Regions from separate parts of the Homo sapiens genome. Here region 1 is linked to region 2. The links come from fine-mapping of genetic effects on gene expression. A gene starts in region 2. The other region holds a variant in brackets. All regions are shown on one strand. Distances are between the middles of the regions. Region 1 overlaps USP21 (ubiquitin specific peptidase 21). Region 2 holds the start of ADAMTS4 (ADAM metallopeptidase with thrombospondin type 1 motif 4).

Region 1 (4,381 bases), 36 kb before region 2:
GGGCTTTCCTGGACCCCCTACCCTGTTCAGCATACGGACAGAGCCCCCTGCTTCCCATGGCTCCTTCCACATGATATCCGCCCGGTCCTCTGAGCCTTTCTACTCTGATGACAAGATGGTGAGGACTTGCCACACACATGGCCTTCATGCCCATGTTCCTCTGTGCTTTCCTGCCATCCTCTGCCTTTTCTGTCCCCCATTTCCCTGAAGTTCCTTTCTCAGCCCTTCATTACAGCAGTTTGGACATGCCTCTCCCTTGCTTAAATACCCTTGAGCCTCCTAGACCCTTTTTTGGGTTGTTGGTGACTCTTCAGCATGGTGTGCCATTTCGGTCCCCAGGGGATTACCCCAACTATTTAGAATTCTTCTTTGGGTCCCCAGGCCCTTCCTTTCCCTTGCTTGCACCTTCTCTACTGGGACTCTGCCTAGGCCTAATTAATCTCTGGAGCTAAAGAGAGGCAGGCACAGAACATCTTAGCAAACGTGGTTGCACATTTTCTGAGCTAAGTAAGCTAGGCTGATTGCAATTGGAGCCAGCAGGAGAAGGGCAAGAAGGGGCCACGGGGGCAGGAGGGGGTTTTGGGGGCAGAAAGGTGGGAGTGGTGAGCAGCTGGGCAACCATGCCGGTGCTGGGGGAGTTGCCCCAGGAGCTGCAACGTCAGCTAGCTGAGCAGAGGAGTAAGTGGGCAACAGGTGGGACAGCCATGGCTGAGTCCGTGGTACATTCAGCTGTGATGGGCTTACTGCTCATGACCAGTGAGGTAGGGAGACTAGAATACCTAGTGAGGGGAATAGGGTAGAGTTTGGGGATGAAACATGCATGGGATGGGGGAGGCAGTGGGCAGCATGCTGTTGAAAGGTTAAAGTGCCAGGTAGGATATATAGGAACTTGCCGATTGTACTCTGACCTTCCAGGCTCATCACACACTCCTTCTGGGCTCTGGTCATGTTGGCCTTCGAAACCTGGGAAACACGGTGAGAGCTATTCTCCTATCTTTCCTCTCTAAAAGGAATGTGAAATGGTGCTGGGGGTGGGGAAAACCCACGAGCTTGGGGAAGGCATGTGGAAGGAGAGCTCTGAAGCTCTTCTAAGGCTTCCTGGGCAGTGGTCTGGAGAGATAACAGCAGTGTCCCTACTGCTCCCCAGTGCTTCCTGAATGCTGTGCTGCAGTGTCTGAGCAGCACTCGACCTCTTCGGGACTTCTGTCTGAGAAGGGACTTCCGGCAAGAGGTGCCTGGAGGAGGCCGAGCCCAAGAGCTCACTGAAGGTGGGGCAACAACTCCTGCTCCCTCTGTTCAAGTCCCTTTTTCCCCAACCACTTGCAGGTCCATCTGCCACTGGTGGTGGCCCCCAACCCTTAAATCTGGCAGTTGTATCTACTTTTCCCAGTGCCTACTTTCCTAAAGGTTATTTTCTACCCTCTGAGCCACCTTTTGCTTGCCTCTTCCAGACATTAACCTTTGTTTGCCTTCCCCACTCCCATCCCAACAGCCTTTGCAGATGTGATTGGTGCCCTCTGGCACCCTGACTCCTGCGAAGCTGTGAATCCTACTCGATTCCGAGCTGTCTTCCAGAAATATGTTCCCTCCTTCTCTGGATACAGGTGGGAGAGCTGGAGGCTATGGGATTTCTCTCTGGCCATGTCTGGGGGTAGGGCCAAGCAAGGGCCCTGGCAGCATTGTTCTGAGCCTTGAGATGTTCTTCATCCAGGAAGTGGGGACCAATATCTGGGCAGGGAATAGTGTCTGTGGACTAGGAGAGGAGTCAGTTGCCCATACTCTTTGTCTGGCTGTAGCCAGCAGGATGCCCAAGAGTTCCTGAAGCTCCTCATGGAGCGGCTACACCTTGAAATCAACCGCCGAG[G/A]CCGCCGGGCTCCACCGATACTTGCCAATGGTCCAGTTCCCTCTCCACCCCGCCGAGGAGGGGCTCTGCTAGAAGAACCTGAGTTAAGGTAAGGGTCGTTCCCTCTACCTCCTTTCCCCGTAGTTTATCAGCATCATTCACACTTCATAGAACTAAACTAGTAAAGATTGAAGATGTAGGGTCCAGGGAAACCCTTTAGTATAGAAAATAGTATGAGAAGCAACATAGAAGTAGAAGGAAGGAAGGAAGAGGGGGAGTCTAAGGGAGCAGATGGAGGCAGAAGATCATGCTAGGGATGTCACCAAATTGAAGAAGGGGATAATTCATTTACAGGTAGAGGAAGACAGCATATTCTTCCCTTATGTACATTCCTTTCTTTTCCTCTCACCTCGGATTTCCCTAGAAAGTTCATTGAGGCATTATTCTTTTGACTTTTCCTTGAAATTTAGGGAAGGAGCAGGGGTGTGGATGGGGAGTAGGGCTCTGTAGGTTGTTTCAGTGGGTGTTGGGGGTGCCCAGTGTTCCTGCTGTCTCATGGGTGCTCCCCACTTCCTTTGATCTGTGGTAGTGATGATGACCGAGCCAACCTAATGTGGAAACGTTACCTGGAGCGAGAGGACAGCAAGATTGTGGGTATGGAATGGGGCAAAGCAATGAGGGAAAATTAGTGTGTGAGGGGGGTACAGGCTTGGGGGGAAAAATCGATACTATCAAGGGGTATGGGAACAAGACTGGATGATGCAAATGTGAAGCTGTGTGAAGAGTTGATTAGGAGTGTTGGTAGTGGGAAAGGAAGGGTCAAGCAAAGGGGCAGGAAGAGATGGAAATCCAAGAAATCATCTCATAACATCCAACAATGACCTTTTCTCCTGTCCCTGTGCTTCTGTCTAGACCTGTTTGTGGGCCAGTTGAAAAGTTGTCTCAAGTGCCAGGCCTGTGGGTATCGCTCCACGACCTTCGAGGTTTTTTGTGACCTGTCCCTGCCCATCCCCAAGGTGGGATTCCAGAGGATTCCGGGGTGGACAGGACAGGGGCTCTGTGACCCAAGCCTACCCACCCCCAGAGTGTGGGCGGGAACCCTGTGGGTTTCTGGAGCAGAACTGAAGCCTGGATTGATTGAGAAGAGTTGGAAAAGGAAATTCAGAACATGTTGACCTTTCTTCCCCTTTTCCCCCAGAAAGGATTTGCTGGGGGCAAGGTGTCTCTGCGGGATTGTTTCAACCTTTTCACTAAGGAAGAAGAGCTAGAGTCGGAGAATGCCCCAGTATGTGGAGGTTCACAAGGGATACAGTAAGGGTGGGAGACCTGGGGGGACTCCATGTGGATAAAAGGGATTGCATGATGTCTTCATATGGGGAATAATATTTATGTATCTGGGTTTGTGTTGGAGTCTCAGATCTGTTCTAGTACTCCTAGAGCAAAGGGGAGAAGCCAAGAGGATCCAGCTGTAATGAAGAGCATACTAAATTTGTATGTGGATCGGGGTGTCAGAAAAGCCAATTGAGGTTAGGAGCATATTAACCTAACACTGTTTGCCATTTATTCAGGTGTGTGACCGATGTCGGCAGAAAACTCGAAGTACCAAAAAGTTGACAGTACAAAGATTCCCTCGAATCCTCGTGCTCCATATCCTAATCTTCAGATTCTTACTTCTCTTAGGATACCTCCCATACATTCTCTTTCCTCCATGTTTCCAGAGAATTGAATTTTCCTTAGGAAAAGTCTGCCACCCACTTTTCCACAAGATGCTCCCAGTGTGTCGGGAGTGGGGAGAGGACAGCTTTCAGGATAGAAGAAGTTCCCCTCAGAGGCCCACTGCCTCCCAAATGCTCCTTAACCAGGGCTTAGATCTGAATCGATTTTCTGCCTCCCGAGGCTCCATCAAAAAAAGTTCAGTAGGTGTAGACTTTCCACTGCAGCGACTGAGCCTAGGGGACTTTGCCAGTGACAAAGCCGGTGAGTCTGGTGGGGAAAGTCCTAAGGAGCCAAAGGAGTGGGGGCACAGCTCTGATTATAGAACTTGATCATCTCCAACCCCGCAGGAAGTCCTGTATACCAGCTGTATGCCCTTTGCAACCACTCAGGCAGCGTCCACTATGGCCACTACACAGCCCTGTGCCGGTGCCAGACTGGTTGGCATGTCTACAATGACTCTCGGTGAGAATAGCCTCCTATTTACATCCTGCCCCATTCCCACTCAGCCCTGACACCCTCCCCTTCTATGAAGCTCCAGGAGAGCAGAGTGCCAGGTGAAAGGAGAGGTGGAGGTCTTGCCTGATCATTTCCTGGATGCTCTGAGGTTCGGTCTTGTAGGGAGAAGGGAGTAAACAGGAATGACCACAACCCTTTCCCGATCTCCTTTTTTCCTAGTGTCTCCCCTGTCAGTGAAAACCAGGTGGCATCCAGCGAGGGCTACGTGCTGTTCTACCAACTGATGCAGGAGCCACCCCGGTGCCTGTGACACCTCTAAGCTCTGGCACCTGTGAAGCCCTTTAAACACCCTTAAGCCCCAGGCTC
Region 2 (4,381 bases):
AGGAGGGAAGGGAAGAAGGGGGAGACCAGGAGTGGGAGGGAGGAAAGGATGGAGCCTCAGGCAGCCTCGCAGTCCGGCCACAGTGTGTGAAGGGGATTGACCAGAAGGAGGTATGGGATACCCTCCCTCTCTTGCCACTCCTGCCCTAGTTTGCAGTTTGCCACAGTGATTTTAAAGGCAGCATCAGAAGCCAGACACCAAGCCCTAGGGCCTCAAACCTGACTCCTATAGCTGGGAGTGGGGGATGAAAATCAAATTTGGAGCAGAGAAAAGAGCCAAGGCCAAGGGGCTGTTAGGAGACCTTTACTGCTGGGGACTGTGTCAGTAGGAGATGCCATGGCCAGGAAGGGGTGGGGTGGGGAGAGGGAGCAGTTATTCCCAGCCCAGAGTCTGTGACCCACCTCTGAGAACCCTCGGTGGGTCTGGCTAGGAGAAGGGTGAAGGGGAGAGGCCTGAGCCTTACCAAGAAAGGAGGCTCATGGAGAAAGGAAAGGCAGGCAGAAGGGAGGGAAGCAGAACGGCCAGAAGTGTAAGTGGGTGGAGAGAGGGTGAATAGGGGTCAGTAGGACAGACATGGCGGGAGGACACCGCAGGACACAGACTCCAGAGATGCCTACCTTGGCTCTTCGGGGTCTGGGGCTGGGGCTTCCAAGAGGAGCCTTGACGTTGCACATGGGACCTTGACCGCTGGCAGGACTCTTCCGGCGTAGGATGTGAGCCCCAGGTCCCCCAGCAGAGTTAGGGGTGCCTCCCTCCAGGGGCTGGAGGTGGAGTTCAGCCCCCCGATATTGTAACACGCCTAACAGGGCTCCCCCATCCCAGTGCAGAGATGCCACCGACTCCGGATCTCCATTGATGGTGCCAGTCAGGTAGGTGCCAGGCTCTGCTCCACCCAGCAGCTCAGGCGCCTGGCCCAGGTACTGCACTGTCAGCCCCTCGACCTGCACACCGGAGTCCTGCTCCAGCTCTAGTAGCAGCGTCTCCCCAAAGGCCTGCAAGCGGCACAACAGCCTGGCAGGGGCGCCCGAGCCAGGCAGGACGCTGCCGTTGAGCTTCTCTGGAAACACGATCTCCTCCTCCCGGGGGAGGGGGCTGGCCAGCCGGGCTGAGGGCAGGAGAGAGGCCAGCAGTAGCAGAAGCAGCCACACCAGCCAGGAGAGCGGCACAATGGGGAGCAGGAGGCAGGGTTGGGCTCCCCACAGCCAGCGCCCTGCCAAGCCCCTCCCGGGATGCGAGCCTGTCTGGGACATGGCACTGGTACTGCAGCTGGGAGGGACTGAGGCCGTCTAGGGCACCAAGTCCTCCACACCCTAGCTTTGGAAAGCTCCTCTCTGTAGCCTGGGGGCTTGGACTCCTGCCAAGGTCAGAGGCAAAGTTTTCAGAAGGGCTGAGGACCGTTAAAGGAAATGGAGAAAACTTAGTCCTTGGGCTTGGGAGAGGTGCCCAGGGGTCTGGCTTCTCCAAACTCTCCTCCTGAGCCCTCCTTTCCTGGATCTTTGTCTCTCCCTGCCTGTGTCTTCTGCAGCTTCTCTGGCCTCTCCCTCTGTAGGACTCTGTCTGGGCCGCTTCTGTGCCTGCCCTGTCTCTGCCTTCTTCCGCTGTGCCTTTGTCTCTGTCTCTTTCCTCCTCTGTCTCTCTCGTGCATATGTGTCTGTGGGTCTCCCTGTGGGTTCTCCCCAGCCTCTCTCCGCGCCAGCTCTTTTAAGCATGGTGAGCCTCTGCGATTGATTGGCTGATCTCTAAGCCACTCAGCTGAGCTCTGTCGGTGGGACTCAGATGGGTGTATCATCGCTTCCCAAAAAAATGGGACTTGCCCAGGGGAGGGGAATCTCTAGCAGCCGAATGGATAATAGGCACTGGGCCAGCTGATGACATAGCCTTTTCCCAAACCCCACAATCAGCCCTCAGCTGTCTCTTTCCCTTTTTGGTGGGACAGAGCCCCAGGAGAGGCAGAGAGTGAGGGAAAGGGCCTGGCCGGCATGCACAGATAGGATCACGGTCCTGGGAGAATTCCTGCTCTTATAGTCTAACCTACCATGGCTTCTCTTTTCTCAAGGCTCCCTCATGCTGCCCTTTGGCCCTAGTGGCTGGTTTCCAGGGCTGAGGGGACTGAGTGAGCTGCCTGAGAAAAGAGGGTAGGGAACAGGTAAGGAGGCATCAAGAGGGAAGAACAAATAAAAGAGGTAGCTTGACATGGCTCAGGATAGAACTGAGCAGCTGGGAAGAGTAAAAAAGGCAGAACATTGGGGGAGGCAAGGAGACAGTGATCAGGGAGTTGACTGCCCAAAGGTAGGATGATCCTGCTTGGAATGAACATAACAGAGGCGGCAGATGACAAGGCAGGAGGGGTTAACGACTTTTCCTTTTATAGAAGGCGGATCCAGGGTGGCACCTCCTCTTTTCTAACGTCCCTTCTCTCCCTCAGGATCCCCCTTCCTGAGTTACCACTACCCACCCCCTCCAAAGCCCAGAACAGCCATTCCGCCTCCATTTCCCCCCAGGGTTCCCCCTCCCCACTTCCTGACTCCCCATTTCCCTGGCCCAGCTCCCAGTAGCTTCCCCCAGGCTTTTGGCCCTGCTCCTACCCACTCCCAACTGCCCTAAACCCTCCCCCAGCCTCAAGTCAGCCAGCCCCCAGCATAGGCAAGACTTGCTCTCAGGAACCCAGATTCACCCAGTATCAATCTGGGAGAATCCCCACCTGGCTCCCACCATCCACCCCACCTTGCTCTGAGAACCCAGTGGTTCCTGGAATATCTAGTCATCTTTTCTTTTTAATTCTCCCTGGGGCAGGGAGAGGGTGGAGACAGCATTGTGCATATAGGGAAATTAGGGTACTGGGAGAAATCCATTGCCTGGGGTGGGGAAAGTGGCTGGGGAGGAAGAGGTGGTGTTAGGGAAAGGAAGCAAATTATTCCTTTGGCTTTGGATAGGAGGGAACTCGGAAAAGAGGTCTTGGGTATGAACTCTCAAGGCAAGGAAGGGTTCAGAAGTAGGGGCAATTTCTGCTCACCCCATCCTCTGGCTGCTTGTTTCCCCAGGAAATCCCCAGGAAGGAGAGTGCAGTCAGCAGTCTCTTTCCTTTCCCAGAAGTGGACCACCTCCTCTTGCCTCTATTCCCCTATTCACTCTGCTTTGTCACCTCCTGTCCCCCGCATATCATATCCGTCAGAATACTTCCTTTCCCCCTCCCTTCCTGCTCAGGTCGGTAATACCTGCCCTGGTGCCTATCACTTCCTGGATCACCCACCCCCTTGTGACTGCCAGACCCACCTCTTGACCCACCACTTGCCTGACCCTGGTTCTAAGCCAACGGGGCTGGGACTAGAGGAGTCGGACAAAGGGTGGGAGACCAGAAGGGGCAGGGGCAAGAGGAGCTATCACCAGAGAACTCTACTGCCCCTTTCCACTCCCCTATTTGAGATGAGGACAAAGGGGGTGACTAAGCAATGAAAGACAAAGGGCTTTAGAGTGGCTGCAGCAGTGTGTGTGGGGGTGTTGGCAGCAGGGAGAAGGCACAAAAGCTGCAGTGTCCTAGGCAGCCCCTCAGGAGCCCCCCACCCCAGTCCCAGCTCAAGCTGCCTCCAGGGCCAAGCAGCCCAAAGTCTATCCTGACTTCTCCCAGGCTGGATCAAGGCAAATAAATGCAGTCCTTCCCATCCCCCACCACCATGGCCACATTTGCTGTGTTTCAACAATAGAAAGAAGGCCCAGGGAAAGAGCAAGGAATGAGGACAACAGAGGGACCAAACCTCTGCCCTGGCTCTGTGGCAGCTGCCTTGTCTAGCCCAGGTCCTGGTCAGTTCCCACAGCTAAGGATCTGGCCCCACCCTTTGGTACAGTTCCCATTAGGTCAATTCCCAGGCCAGAAGTCTGGCTTTCCCCTCTTTCTCTGCAGTGAAGAATTCCACCATCTCTGCTTCCTGGTCTGTCTGCCTCACCCTGCTGCGCTGCTGGTGGGCTGTGTCCCTGGGATCCTGTCTAGGGGATATCTGGGGAAGGCCTCTTTCCAGGCTCAGAGTTGGAGAGTTGTACAAACTCTACGGGTGGGTGGCCCAGCTGGAGTTGGGCTTAGAGGCAGAGGGAGAAAACAGGAACTAGCCTCTAAGGCTGGAAGAATCTTTGTCCATACAGAATTGTGATCAGACTCCTGGTGCTACTACATTTCCGTGCTGTTGGCCATTACCCAGGAGGGCTATAGCAGGGTCAGAAAGACGTTAGGGAAAAGAGGCTGACGCAAGACGGAAGTGGGGTGTGAGGCATCTCTAAGGGCGCTTCCTGGGTCTGTGATTCTGTAGGTTCGGGAAGCCTGGAGGATGTCAGGGTCACCCACAGAGGACCTCCACTCCCCCATCTGGGATGAGGTGGCTCCTACACACCC

Evidence for each region. PIP is the estimated chance that this variant, and not a neighbour inherited with it, causes the effect.
Region 1: its variant is the best candidate, but not a certain one, in a credible set for the expression of ADAMTS4 in whole blood (TOPMed, PIP 0.56).

Annotation. Positions count from the first base shown.
Region 1 is chr1:161,161,123-161,165,503 of GRCh38, forward strand. It overlaps USP21 (ubiquitin specific peptidase 21), which reads left to right. Exons shown (of 14, transcript NM_001014443.3): 3 at 1-118; 4 at 916-975; 5 at 1,148-1,268; 6 at 1,493-1,604; 7 at 1,797-1,952; 8 at 2,433-2,497; 9 at 2,756-2,859; 10 at 3,042-3,128; 11 at 3,412-3,490; 12 at 3,713-3,820; 13 at 3,907-4,021; 14 at 4,235-4,381. The coding sequence ends at 4,325. Among named protein-coding and RNA genes, the nearest start is that of PPOX, 3.1 kb to the right of the region's middle. The variant G/A (reference allele first, on the strand shown) is at 1,865.
Region 2 is chr1:161,197,378-161,201,758 of GRCh38, forward strand. ADAMTS4 (ADAM metallopeptidase with thrombospondin type 1 motif 4) reads right to left here and starts at 1,677. Exons shown (of 9, transcript NM_005099.6): 1 at 618-1,677. The coding sequence starts at 1,250. It also overlaps a transcript of NDUFS2 not described here. RefSeq lists enhancers at 1-416, 2,942-3,663.